3 linked regions of the Homo sapiens genome follow. The protein of the gene in region 1 interacts with the protein of each later gene in a pairwise test. Each region holds a gene or a part of one and is shown in the gene's direction. Other genes may lie near its edges.

Region 1 (3,752 bases):
CCACTCCTGAAGAAGATGAGGTTCAAATATGGAGAGCACCTGGCATGCAGTCAGTGCTTAATAAAAGCACATTTATTCCTTCTCTCTCCACTTTTGCTTATAAGGTGTTAGGTTTTGCAGGGTAAGAGCTGCGCTCACTGGTCCAGGACCTTGGCCTTCCTGTGTCTTCACTTTTTCATCTGCTGAACAGACTCCAAGGGCCCCAGTGGTGGGGATAAATAAATGCCTGATTACTCCATTTAGGGAAAGGTAGAAGAAAGGGTAGGATAGAGACCAGGATGCCAAAGGATCCCTCAGGCCTGGGAACCTGGAAAGACTTTTCCAGGACCTAAAAGAGAAGCGGCGGGGCACTGTGGCTCACGCCTGTAATCCCAGCACTTTGGGAGGCTGAGATAGGTGGATCACCTGAGGTCAGGAGTTCGAGGACAGCCTGGCCAACATGGTGAAACCCCATCTCTACTAAAAATACAAAAACTTTGCCAGGCATGGTGGCGCTCGCCTGTAGTCCCAGCTGCTCAGGAGGCTGAGGCAGGAGAATCACTTGAACCCGGGAGGTGGAGGTTGTCATGAGCTGAGATCACACCACTGCACTCTAGCCTGGGCGACAGAGTAAGACTGTCTCAAAAAATAAAATAAAATAAAAATTAAGTGAAAATTTAAAAAATAAAAAGGGACGCATGAAAGTGTAAAGTTCACAGGTGGGGAAATCAAAATGGCCAGCAAGTGTTGGGAGGCACCTTCATCTCTCAGTGCAGTGATTCGGGGAAAGGACCTGAATGTGGATGTCTCACCCCAGGCAAGCACTGCATCTCTGGACAACTTGCCTCACACTCAGCCTCAGTTTCCCCCTTATAGAATAGGAGTACAGGGTTGTGAGGATTTTGTGAGATGCTGCCTGTGAACACCATGGCAGGCCAGGCATACAGCAGGAGCTCGGCCAGTGTCTGCTGTTGGCGTTGTTTTTGTTGTTTTCATTCTCCAGTCAGTTGCATTCTAACTCTGCTGCATCCTCTCTGGGTCTTTCAGCACTTGTCCCCACTGGATCTCAGTTTCCTCCTCTATAAAAGAGGAGGAGTCACCTCTCCCTCTCAGGGTTCTTGTGAGGACAGAGAGCTCCTGACGTGCAATAGGGGCTCTGAAAACAGGAGACCCTTGCCCTGGAATGGAGACGCACCCCAGATGTAGGATGCAGTGTGACTCTTTTGACATTTTAGGAGAAAGAATCCTCCAACTGGAGCAAAAAAATTAGAGCAGGAGAGGAAAGGGGCCAAGAGATGAGACTGAGGTCCCTTCCTGGGCTCTGTCTGGCTGCTCCTTTCAATGCTCCAAGCTACCTTGGGAGCGTGGGTCCCCAACCTTGGCTCCGCTCAGGAAACCATAAAGTCTTGAGTAACATCCCATCTCAGGTTTTTCTCTGTTTATCTTGTTGACCAAATAGCTTAACTGTCTCACCTGCTAATGTGATTGGCAATTATTTACTTTGGAGAGCCCTGAAAGACACTGTCAGATTGCAGAATTCTCAATTATCTAGAAACCCATCACCCAACACATGCTTCCTCGTCCCCATACTATAAAAGAGGCTGACTCCTCGGCAGAAGTGAGTGGGGGAGAGAGAGGAGACCAGGACAGCTGCTGAGACCTCTAAGAAGTCCAGGTAAGAGCCATCCATTCTGTGGCCCCTCTGCTACCCTTAACGGCAGGGATCTCAGGCTCCTGCCCTGTGGGGCAGTGAGTGATCTTGATCACTCACTGGGGGCTGTGCAAGAGAAACAGACCTGGCCAATGTCAGGGATGTGGGGATGGCCATTTGCTCTGCTGTCCTAAGAGACCAGTAACATTGATATAGAAATGGGCACTATTAATGCCGTAAATGAAAGCCTCTAAGGCATAAGTTTTAGCTTGAGGTTACCAATGTGGATACAGATGATCCAAAAACCTCCTAAAATTCTTCACCCAATTTTATACATTTTGATGCATTTTTTCTGAGACTAGGATCTTTAGCTTCCATTGGATTCATAAAGGGTCTGTTGCCCAAAAGAGATTCAGAGGCTGTGGTCAAAGTTACCTCCCTAAGAAGGGCACAACTGGCTCTTTGGACCAAAGACCTTTCATTTCCAGCCTTCCACCACAAGGATGGAGCTTTAGCTGAGTCAGCCAATAGATGGAATTTTGCACAAAGTCACCAGTTGTCTCCAAATTGTAGGTACTAGTGCTGGCTCTGGACAACTCTGCTGGCTGCCAAATAGACCTGTGAGAGGTCTGCAAGCCAAACCTCAGGGGTTGACCGGAATTCCATCCAGGGCAGCTTGAAGGAGAAGAGAAAGGTGTCAAAATGATAGAATGCATGTTTGTGTGTTGGGTGAGGGGAGGGTTGGGAGACCTGCCTTCAACCACAGCTCTGCCATCAATTTATTGTATGACCTTGGGAAAGTCACTACCCCTCTTTGGTCTCCTGGTTCTTCTCATGCAATGAAGACTTTGATGGCCCCAGGAATTCCCCAACAAAGGTCTACATGAGATGGTGGCTGTGGCCATGCGACCCCTGTATTGTGTGACTTTCAAGGGCATCCACCAACCATCATGGCCTGAGCTCAGGCCAAAGGACTGAACAGGGATGATCTAAAACAGTTCAATTCTTCAGCACTTGCACGTTTAACCCTTCTCATTTGCTTTGTCTGAAGAGCAGCAATGATTCAAACCATTGAAGCAAGCCCGATTGGAGAATAAATCTGATGGTTACTTAATTTAACCGAGGGTTCACCTGGCTCTAGCTTCTAATCCTCTGTCCACCGTGTACTTGTGACCTTGGGGAAAGTTACCCACACTCGGTAGTACACAAGTGGGTTTCAAGAAGGGATGGGAGTATATTTGAAACTCCCAACTGCAAACTCACTTGACCTCTGTGAGCCTTGGTTTCTCCTACTGGAAAATCAGACAAGTGAACTGTGGGCAAGATGGAGTGAGGTGAGGCTGGGATTCTTGGCAAGAAGGAAAAAAACCCTCTTCTTTGGAATGTGGTGGAGTGGGGCTGTCTCCTTTTTAGGCCCCTGATCAGTGGTCCTCACCTGTGCAATGCAGGTAACAGGTGCCCATGTCTTAGGGTTGTGATGAAGATGAAATTGTGTAAAGTGGTCAGCCTGTTGCCTGGCAAAGAGAAATTGTTCAGCAGTATTAGCTATTACTAGTGACCCCCTGGTGTTCTGGGGAGCAAACAACCCCACCCCCCAGGTGTCAGGGCAGGTGGTGGATAAATTCCTCTCTGATACCCATGCCATGTTGGACTTGTCATTCTGGCCACAGATACTAAGAGCAAAGATGTTTCAAACTGGGGGCCTCATTGTCTTCTACGGGCTGTTAGCCCAGACCATGGCCCAGTTTGGAGGCCTGCCCGTGCCCCTGGACCAGACCCTGCCCTTGAATGTGAATCCAGCCCTGCCCTTGAGTCCCACAGGTCTTGCAGGAAGCTTGACAAATGGTGAGTTTTCAGGGGTGTATGTGTGCATGTGTGTGTGTGTGTGTGTGTGTGTGTGTGTGTGTGTGTGTGTGTGTGTGTGTCCAACCCTGCAAAGTGGGGAGGGACAGGGCTGGATGGGGGAGGGGGCCTGAGGATCTGGAATTGTCAGATCTGACCCCCAGAGACCCTTACACCCATTTCCAGCCCTCAGCAATGGCCTGCTGTCTGGGGGCCTGTTGGGCATTCTGGAAAACCTTCCGCTCCTGGACATCCTGAAGCCTGGAGGAGGTACTTCTGG
Region 2 (3,652 bases), on another chromosome or scaffold:
AGTATTTCTTTCTTTCTTTTTTTTTTTTTTTCGAGACGGAGTCTTGCTCTGTCGCCCAGGCTAGAGTGCAGTGGCGCGATCTCGGCTCACTGCAGACTCTGCCTCCCAGGTTCAAGCAATTCTCCTGCCTCAGCCTCCCGAGTAGCTGGGATTACAGGTGCCCACCACCGCACCCAGCTAATTTTTGTATTTTTTAGTAGAGACAGGGTTTCACCATCTTGGCCAGGCTGGTCTCAAACTCCTGACCTCATGATCCATCCGCCTCGGACTCCCAAAGTGCTGGGATTACAGGCATAAGCCACCATGCCTGGCCGGGCAGTATTTCTTATACTTTAACGTTCATACGGATCTCCAGGAGATTTGTTATAAAATAGTGGTTCTGACTCAGTGGGTTTGGATGGGGACTGAGATTTTGCATTTCTAATCAGCTCTCAGGTGATGCTGATGCAGACTGTGAGGCAAGTCAATAGGGGATAAGAGTCTATCTTTTAATTGAGAACTTGCCATATTCCAAAAAAAAAAAGACCAAGAGGAAGTACTCTCTTGGTGGCACTAGTCCAGCAGGAATCCATTGCATTCACATCAAGGTATCACCTAATCCTGCATTTGAGGCCTTGTGCCCAGGCACTGGACATATGCAGTGAAACAGCTAAGAAGGAGATAGAAGACGGGTCACTTGATCAATTCTACCTCCCTATGGAGCACTTCTTTCCAGAACCTTTGTGTTTTGCCTTCCTAGGTTCTGACTTTGGTTTTAGTGAAAATGAAGTTTTGTGTACAATTTTTTTTTTTTTTAAGACAGAATCTCACTCCGTTGCCCAGGCTGGAGTGCAGTGGCACGATCTCAGCTCACTGCAACCTCCGCCTCCCAGGTTCAAGCGATTCTCATGCCTCAGCCTCCCGAATAGCAGGGATCACAGGCATGCTCCACCACGTCTGGCTAATTTTTTTGTATTTTTAGTAGAGACAGGGTTTCACCAAGTTAGCCAGGCTCGTCTCAAACTCCTGATCTCATGTGATCTGCCCGCCTTGACTTCCCAAAGTACTGGGATTACAGGCGTGAGCCACCATGCCTGGTCTGTACAACTTTAGTTATAGAAACCTTGGTTTTATCTCAGTGAGTTCTGGGAGAGTTTTTTTTTTTAGACAGGGTCTTACTCTGTCACCCAGGCTGGAGTGCAGTGGCGCAGTCACAGCTCACTGCAGCCTCGACCTCCCTGGCTCAAGTGTTCCTCCCACCTCAGCCTCCTTAGTAGGTGGGATTATAGGCGTGCAGCACCACACCCAGCTAACTTTTTAGAGATGGGGTTTCACCATGTTGTCCAGGCCGGTCTCAAACTCCTGGCTTCAAGCGATCTTCCCACCTCAGCCTCCCAAAGTGCTGGAATTACAGGCATGAACCACCGTGCCCAGCCCTTGGAAAACTTTTTATGATGAATTTGGTTATGTATAGCATAAATGAACCTCTACACTCAGGATTCTCCTGCTGTAGTCTGAATGGGTTGTTTGCTACTTACATGGACATGGGAGAGGGTGGCACCTCTCTTTTGAAAGCCCGAGTTCTGGCAGCTCTGCTAGTCTGATATGCTTACCCTCTTCCCTGTGATCCTCAAACCTGGTACCAGTACCAAATGGTAGAGAGCTTTCCTTAATTCATTGTTGCCTAGATTCTCCAACAGGTAATAATCATTTTGGGGCACTCGTTAAACCTACGAATTCCTAGATCCCTTCCCTGGAGTATTTGATTGAGTGGCTTTGGGGTGGGACCAGGATGTTATGTTTGTAACAAGTATCTCACATGCTTCTTAATAGAGAAGTGTGGGAAACACTACTTTAGTTAGTGGTGGGATGACTGTCTTTTATTTTAATATTTGGATCTTAGGAAAAAATACGGAATTAGCACAATACATCATTTTACAGTTATTACAGCTTATAGTGAGGCAATATTGAAGTTCAAATAGTGATTAGCTTAAAAAATAAATTGTACCTGTGGATGATAGATATTGTAACAGTTGTGAAGATGCTATTTGAATGACTAAGGTTTAGGAAACACTGTGTTTCATTCTAGAATTACCTATAGATGCGAGACATTCCCGTAGGGGAAGATTAGGAAATATGTGTTGGTGGCAGTTGGGCTGGTCCTCTATTCATTCCACAACTAAGCGCTGATGAATTAAGATAGTTCCCATGCTGCATATGAGGCTACAGATTTGAAAAGTCAGTTCCATCCTTCAAGGAACTCAGTCTCTTGGGAGAACTGACAATTACAGTACAATAAAGCCCTGTATTGGAGGTTTTAGAACAAGGTGAGGAAAGCATAAATGCCCGGATCTTCCCAGAGTGGTTGAGTAGACTACAGAAGAGATGATGCTTCAGTTTAGTACAAGAAAGAATATAACTTGTCAGGTGGCTAAAACTGGGCAGGGCATTCCAGGCAGAGGGAACAGCCTATGCAAAGTCACAAAGGCAGGAAACAGCAGGAAGTGTAGAGGAAGCTGCAAATAATTCAATATGACTGAAGCAGGAAGATATGAAAAGCAAATGGTGAGAAGGTTGGAGAGAGGCCAGGGCCAGTAGTGAAAGCCAGTGCCAAGTTTAGCAGTTCATATGTTATTCTGAGGGCAGAGGCTGACTTTCAGGCATGAAGTAATTTTTCCCTTTTGGGGAAGGAGTCCACTGTGCTCCTGAGATTCTCAAAAGGGGCACTGACCCTCCAAAAAAGAATCAGGCCAATATGAACCACTTAAGGATTTTCAGCAGAATACTGTAGATGAATTTTCATGTTCAGAAGATGATTCTAGCAGCATTGTGGAGGATGGGCTGGAGGCCAGTGAGGAGTCTACTGCAGTAGTAGTCCAGGCAAGAGAAAAGAGGTTTTACATGAAAATATGGGTCTGGGGAACACTGGAGATTTGGCAGCAAATATTTATGTGCCTGCTGGGCATGTGACACTGTATGTTCCCTGTCCTGAAACTCAGAAGCTCTGCCAGCTGAAAAGGCCAGGAGTGGAGAGAATGTCTGGCTCCAGTCCATTCCAGTCCAGTACAAAGGCAAAGCTGCTTGCATTGCAGCCAAGTCTTACACACGTAGAGGTTCCATTCTCTTCAGTGGAATACTATACAGCCTTAACAAAATAAAGAGGTAGATCTGGATGTGTTGGCAAGATTTCTAAGGTAAGTTAAGTGACAGTCAAGATGTAGTAATTTATGTAAGCATGTTACTGTTTATTTTGAATGACTTTCAGGAATCTCTGCAGTGATATATAGCAGACTGTGGATAATACTTCTGCAGAGTAGAGATAGCAAAGAGACTTTTCAGTTGCCTTATTTAAGCTTGAATTTTCTACCTTGAACATGTATCTTGTAATAGAAATACATACTGTTTATATGTAGTGTTAACTAATCCTAAATCCTCCCAGCACTTCCCAGGAGCCTGCCCACAGCTGTGGCTAACATCAGGTGTGAATCCATTGCTGATCCCTCCACCTCCTCTTCCAGGTCTAAGCCCAGACAGTGGGTGCTCCCACAGCACTTGGTTCATCTCTCCACTGTGGCATTTAATATACTGTATCACAAATATGTAAGTCTGTTTTTCTCTGGACTGAGAACTTGTTGAAGCAAGGATCATGCTGACTAACATAGTGCCTGGTATG
Region 3 (3,652 bases), on another chromosome or scaffold:
TTTCACAGGGATGCCCGGGTAGTTAAAGACATGGCAACTGGAAAATCCAAAGGCTATGGTTTTGTATCTTTTTATAACAAACTGGTACGTTCTTCCATCTCAATTTATATTTTTTAATACTAAATTTAGTCATTAGTTACTTAATGTATTGAATCTGAAACTTGAATATACTTGAATGTTAACTACAAACACAACTTTTATGTAATGTTATGTATGTTTTAATAATAGAGTATAATTTCATTCCTCTTTCATAAACTCGAAAATAAATAGCTAGAAAAAGAATGATTATACTATAAGGAAGATTATTAAAATTGTGTTTGTACATTGGTAAAGGTCAGATGGATTTAGAAGTAAAGCCCAAGTCTAGGACAGATGAGCTAATCTGAGAATTTAGAGGTTAGGTAAATTATATTCAGTTTTAACCATGAAAATCTCAGTTTTAACTCTACCTTTTAAATTATTATTCATACTCTTATATAACTGGGATGTGAATGACTACAACAAATTATGTAAATAAAAATTTAAGCAATTCATCTTGATTTTTGCATATATTCTTTGTAAAAGGGGTACCAAAGTAAGCATTTGCATTAACTGTAACATTAAATAATAAAGTGGGCTTTGATTTTAAAGCAGTTTCAATAACTTAAATCAATGTTTTGTTTTGTTTTGTTTTGTTTTTTTGAGATAGAGTCTCGCTCTGTTGCCCAGGCTGGAGTCCAGTGGTGCCATCTCAGCCCACTGCAACCTCCACCTCCCGGGTTCAAGCGATCGCGCTGCCTCAGCCTCCTGAGTAGCTGGGATTACAAGCATGTGCCACCACACCCAGCTCATTTTTATATTTTTGGTAGAGACATGGTTTCACTTGGGTTCGCCAGGCTAGTCTCAAACTTCTGATCTCAAGTGATCCTCCTGCCTTGGCCTCCCAAAGTGCTGGGATTACAGGTCATCTACATTTTATTGAAGTGGTAAGATAAAGGGCCAGAGTATTCTGTTTTTGCTTAGATTGAATCTCAAGTTCAAATCGTTTTCTAATTGGTAATAGTTCAGTTTCGTTTTGTTTAGGATATTTAGTAAATTCATCTACTGATTTGTATGGAACCAGCAGCGCCGATATTTTATTTCATCTTACAGAGTCTTATTTATCACTCTTTTCTTTGTGATTGTGCTTTCTTTTTTATCCATAGGATGCAGAAAATGCGATTGTGCATATGGGCGGTCAGTGGTTGGGTGGTCGTCAAATCCGAACCAATTGGGCCACTCGTAAACCACCTGCACCTAAAAGTACACAAGAAAGTAAGATATGTCCACTGTGTGTGTTAAAATTATATTCTTCACAAAATCATGTATCATGTATTCATCTAGTCTCAATTTCTAATTTATTTATGTAAGAGACAGGGTCTTGCTCTGTTGCCCAGGCTGGAGTGCGGTGGCATGATCTTAGCTCACTGTAGCCTGAAACTCCTGGGTATAAGTGATCCTTTCACCTCAGCCTCCTGAGTAACTGAGACTACAGGGACATGCCACCATGCCCAGCTAATTTGTAATTTTTTTATAGAGACAGGGTCTGGTTACGTTGTCCAGGCTGACGTAGTATTTAATTAGTGTTGCAAGACTCTAATTATTTCATTTTATATTTCATTATCTGAAAATAATTGGGCTGTGGTATAAGTATTTTTGGAGCTGTGAATCACCTGATTTTATAGATCAAGTCTGTGTCAAATCATAGCATCAAGAAAAATTATGTTTTCTCCTCCCATTGAGGCATATCTTTTTTTTTTTTTTTTTTTTTTTTTTGAGGTGGAGTCTCGCTCTGTCACCCAGGCTGGAGTACAGTGGTGCGATCTCAGTTCACTGCAACCTCCGCCTCGCAGGTTCAAGCGATTCTCCTGCCTCAGCCTCCTGAGTGGCTGGAATTACAGGCGTGTGCCACCACACCCAGCCAATTTTTGTATTTTTAGTAGAGACAGGGTTTCACCGTGTTGGTCAGGCTGGTCTCGAACTCGTGACCTCGTGATCCACCTGCCTCAGCCTCCCAAAGTGCTGGGATTACAGGCGTGAGCCACCGTGCCCTGCCTTAATTTTTGTATTTTTAGTAGAGACAGGATTTCGTCATGTTGGCCAGGCTGGTCTCGAACTCCTGACCTCAGGTGATCTGCCCACCTCAGCCTCCCAAAGTGCTGGGTGCCCGGCCTGAGGCATATCTTAATAGTATATAGTAATTAACAGAAGAGTTTCATAGTACAATATAACAGTCAACGTTTTTGTTTTGTTTCTGCATACAGACAACACTAAGCAGTTGAGATTTGAAGATGTAGTAAACCAGTCAAGTCCAAAAAATTGTACTGTGTACTGTGGAGGAATTGCGTCTGGGTTAACAGGTACAATGTTTGGTTTTCTAATCACCTCTGAGGAGCTTCATCACTGTTCATATGAATTTCATGATACACATCAGCCATGTTTTATTTGTATGTTTTGTTTTATAGATCAGCTTATGAGACAGACATTCTCACCATTTGGACAAATTATGGAAATAAGAGTTTTCCCAGAAAAGGGCTATTCATTTGTCAGGTAACACTCTACTTGAAATATCATTATTACTCTTATATTTGATTCATTCCTTTCACTTATGTTCTCCAGGGTATCAGTGTTTGTTATTTTAGTGCTTCTTTGCAGTATAGAAGTTTAAGCTACCTACCTAATGTACTTTAGAAAAAAAATACCAACTTGCAGGTGTAAACTGATGAGTTTCCATGTTATTTATTGTGTTAGGTTCTTAAAAAATAAAAGACAAAACCATATCATTTTTCTTTCTTAGATTTTCAACCCATGAAAGTGCAGCCCATGCCATTGTTTCGGTGAACGGTACTACGATTGAAGGACATGTGGTTAAATGCTATTGGGGTAAAGAATCTCCTGATATGACTAAAAACTTCCAACAGGTAATTCGATTTTTCATAGCATTCTTTAAGGTTTCCATCTTACATGTCACATAAAAGCTTTGGAAACTCTGTAAAATGAACAATAAAATAAAGCATATAGCTACTTTCAGTTGATTGTATTTCAAAATTGATTATTTGCGGTATTAACTGAATCTTAATACTTTCTTTTCACAGGTGTCACCACCCCAATAAACTTAGACAATGATAAATAACAGAGTCCTATTCACATAAGGGTGCTTACTTAGTTTTTCTCTTCCTTGTCTCCCACTCTTTCTTCATATACGGTGTTTCTTATGTGTTCCCTAAAACAATACTTTGCTTTTTCCTAGGTTGACTATAGTCAATGGGGCCAATGGAGCCAAGTGTATGGAAACCCACAACAGTATGGACAGTATATGGCAAATGGGTGGCAAGTACCGCCTTATGGAGTATACGGGCAACCATGGAATCAACAAGGATTTGGAGTAGAGTAAGTTGTTTGGGTTTTTCCAGTATAGAAACGTATGGTTCTGACAAAATAAATAAAAGTGTGTTTTCCTAGGGAGAATCTATTTTAATTATATACATTGAGCTATTTGGCATTATGAGCATTATAGAAACTAATCTAACAAAATATGATTTATGAGGCTAAGAAATTACTTCTCATTACCTAGGTGGAAAGGGGGGATTGGGGTAACATTTAGTGTGTCCTATGATCCCTGTAAGCAGTTGGT

The links.
Region 2: the proteins of BPIFA1 (region 1) and PPIH interact in binary tests that used the Homo sapiens proteins (3 or more experiments, as listed by UniProt).
Region 3: the proteins of BPIFA1 (region 1) and TIAL1 interact in binary tests that used the Homo sapiens proteins (3 or more experiments, as listed by UniProt).

Annotation. Positions count from the first base shown.
Region 1 is NC_000020.11:33,234,397-33,238,148, forward strand, and holds the start of BPIFA1 (BPI fold-containing family A member 1 precursor), read left to right. Parts: upstream 1-1,599; 5' UTR 1,600-1,654; intron 1,655-3,300; 5' UTR 3,301-3,315; coding exon 3,316-3,475; intron 3,476-3,658; coding exon 3,659-3,752.
Region 2 is NC_000001.11:42,671,870-42,675,521, forward strand, and holds part of PPIH (peptidyl-prolyl cis-trans isomerase H), read left to right. Parts: intron 1-3,418; exon of another isoform or gene 3,419-3,579; intron 3,580-3,652. UniProt on the Homo sapiens protein: PPIase that catalyzes the cis-trans isomerization of proline imidic peptide bonds in oligopeptides and may therefore assist protein folding. Participates in pre-mRNA splicing.
Region 3 is NC_000010.11:119,576,367-119,580,018, reverse strand, and holds part of TIAL1 (nucleolysin TIAR), read left to right. Parts: intron 1-8; coding exon 9-84; intron 85-1,184; coding exon 1,185-1,293; intron 1,294-2,282; coding exon 2,283-2,378; intron 2,379-2,483; coding exon 2,484-2,568; intron 2,569-2,815; coding exon 2,816-2,939; exon of another isoform or gene 2,940-3,113; coding exon of another isoform or gene 3,114-3,131; exon of another isoform or gene 3,132-3,268; coding exon 3,269-3,408; intron 3,409-3,652. UniProt on the Homo sapiens protein: RNA-binding protein involved in alternative pre-RNA splicing and in cytoplasmic stress granules formation. Shows a preference for uridine-rich RNAs.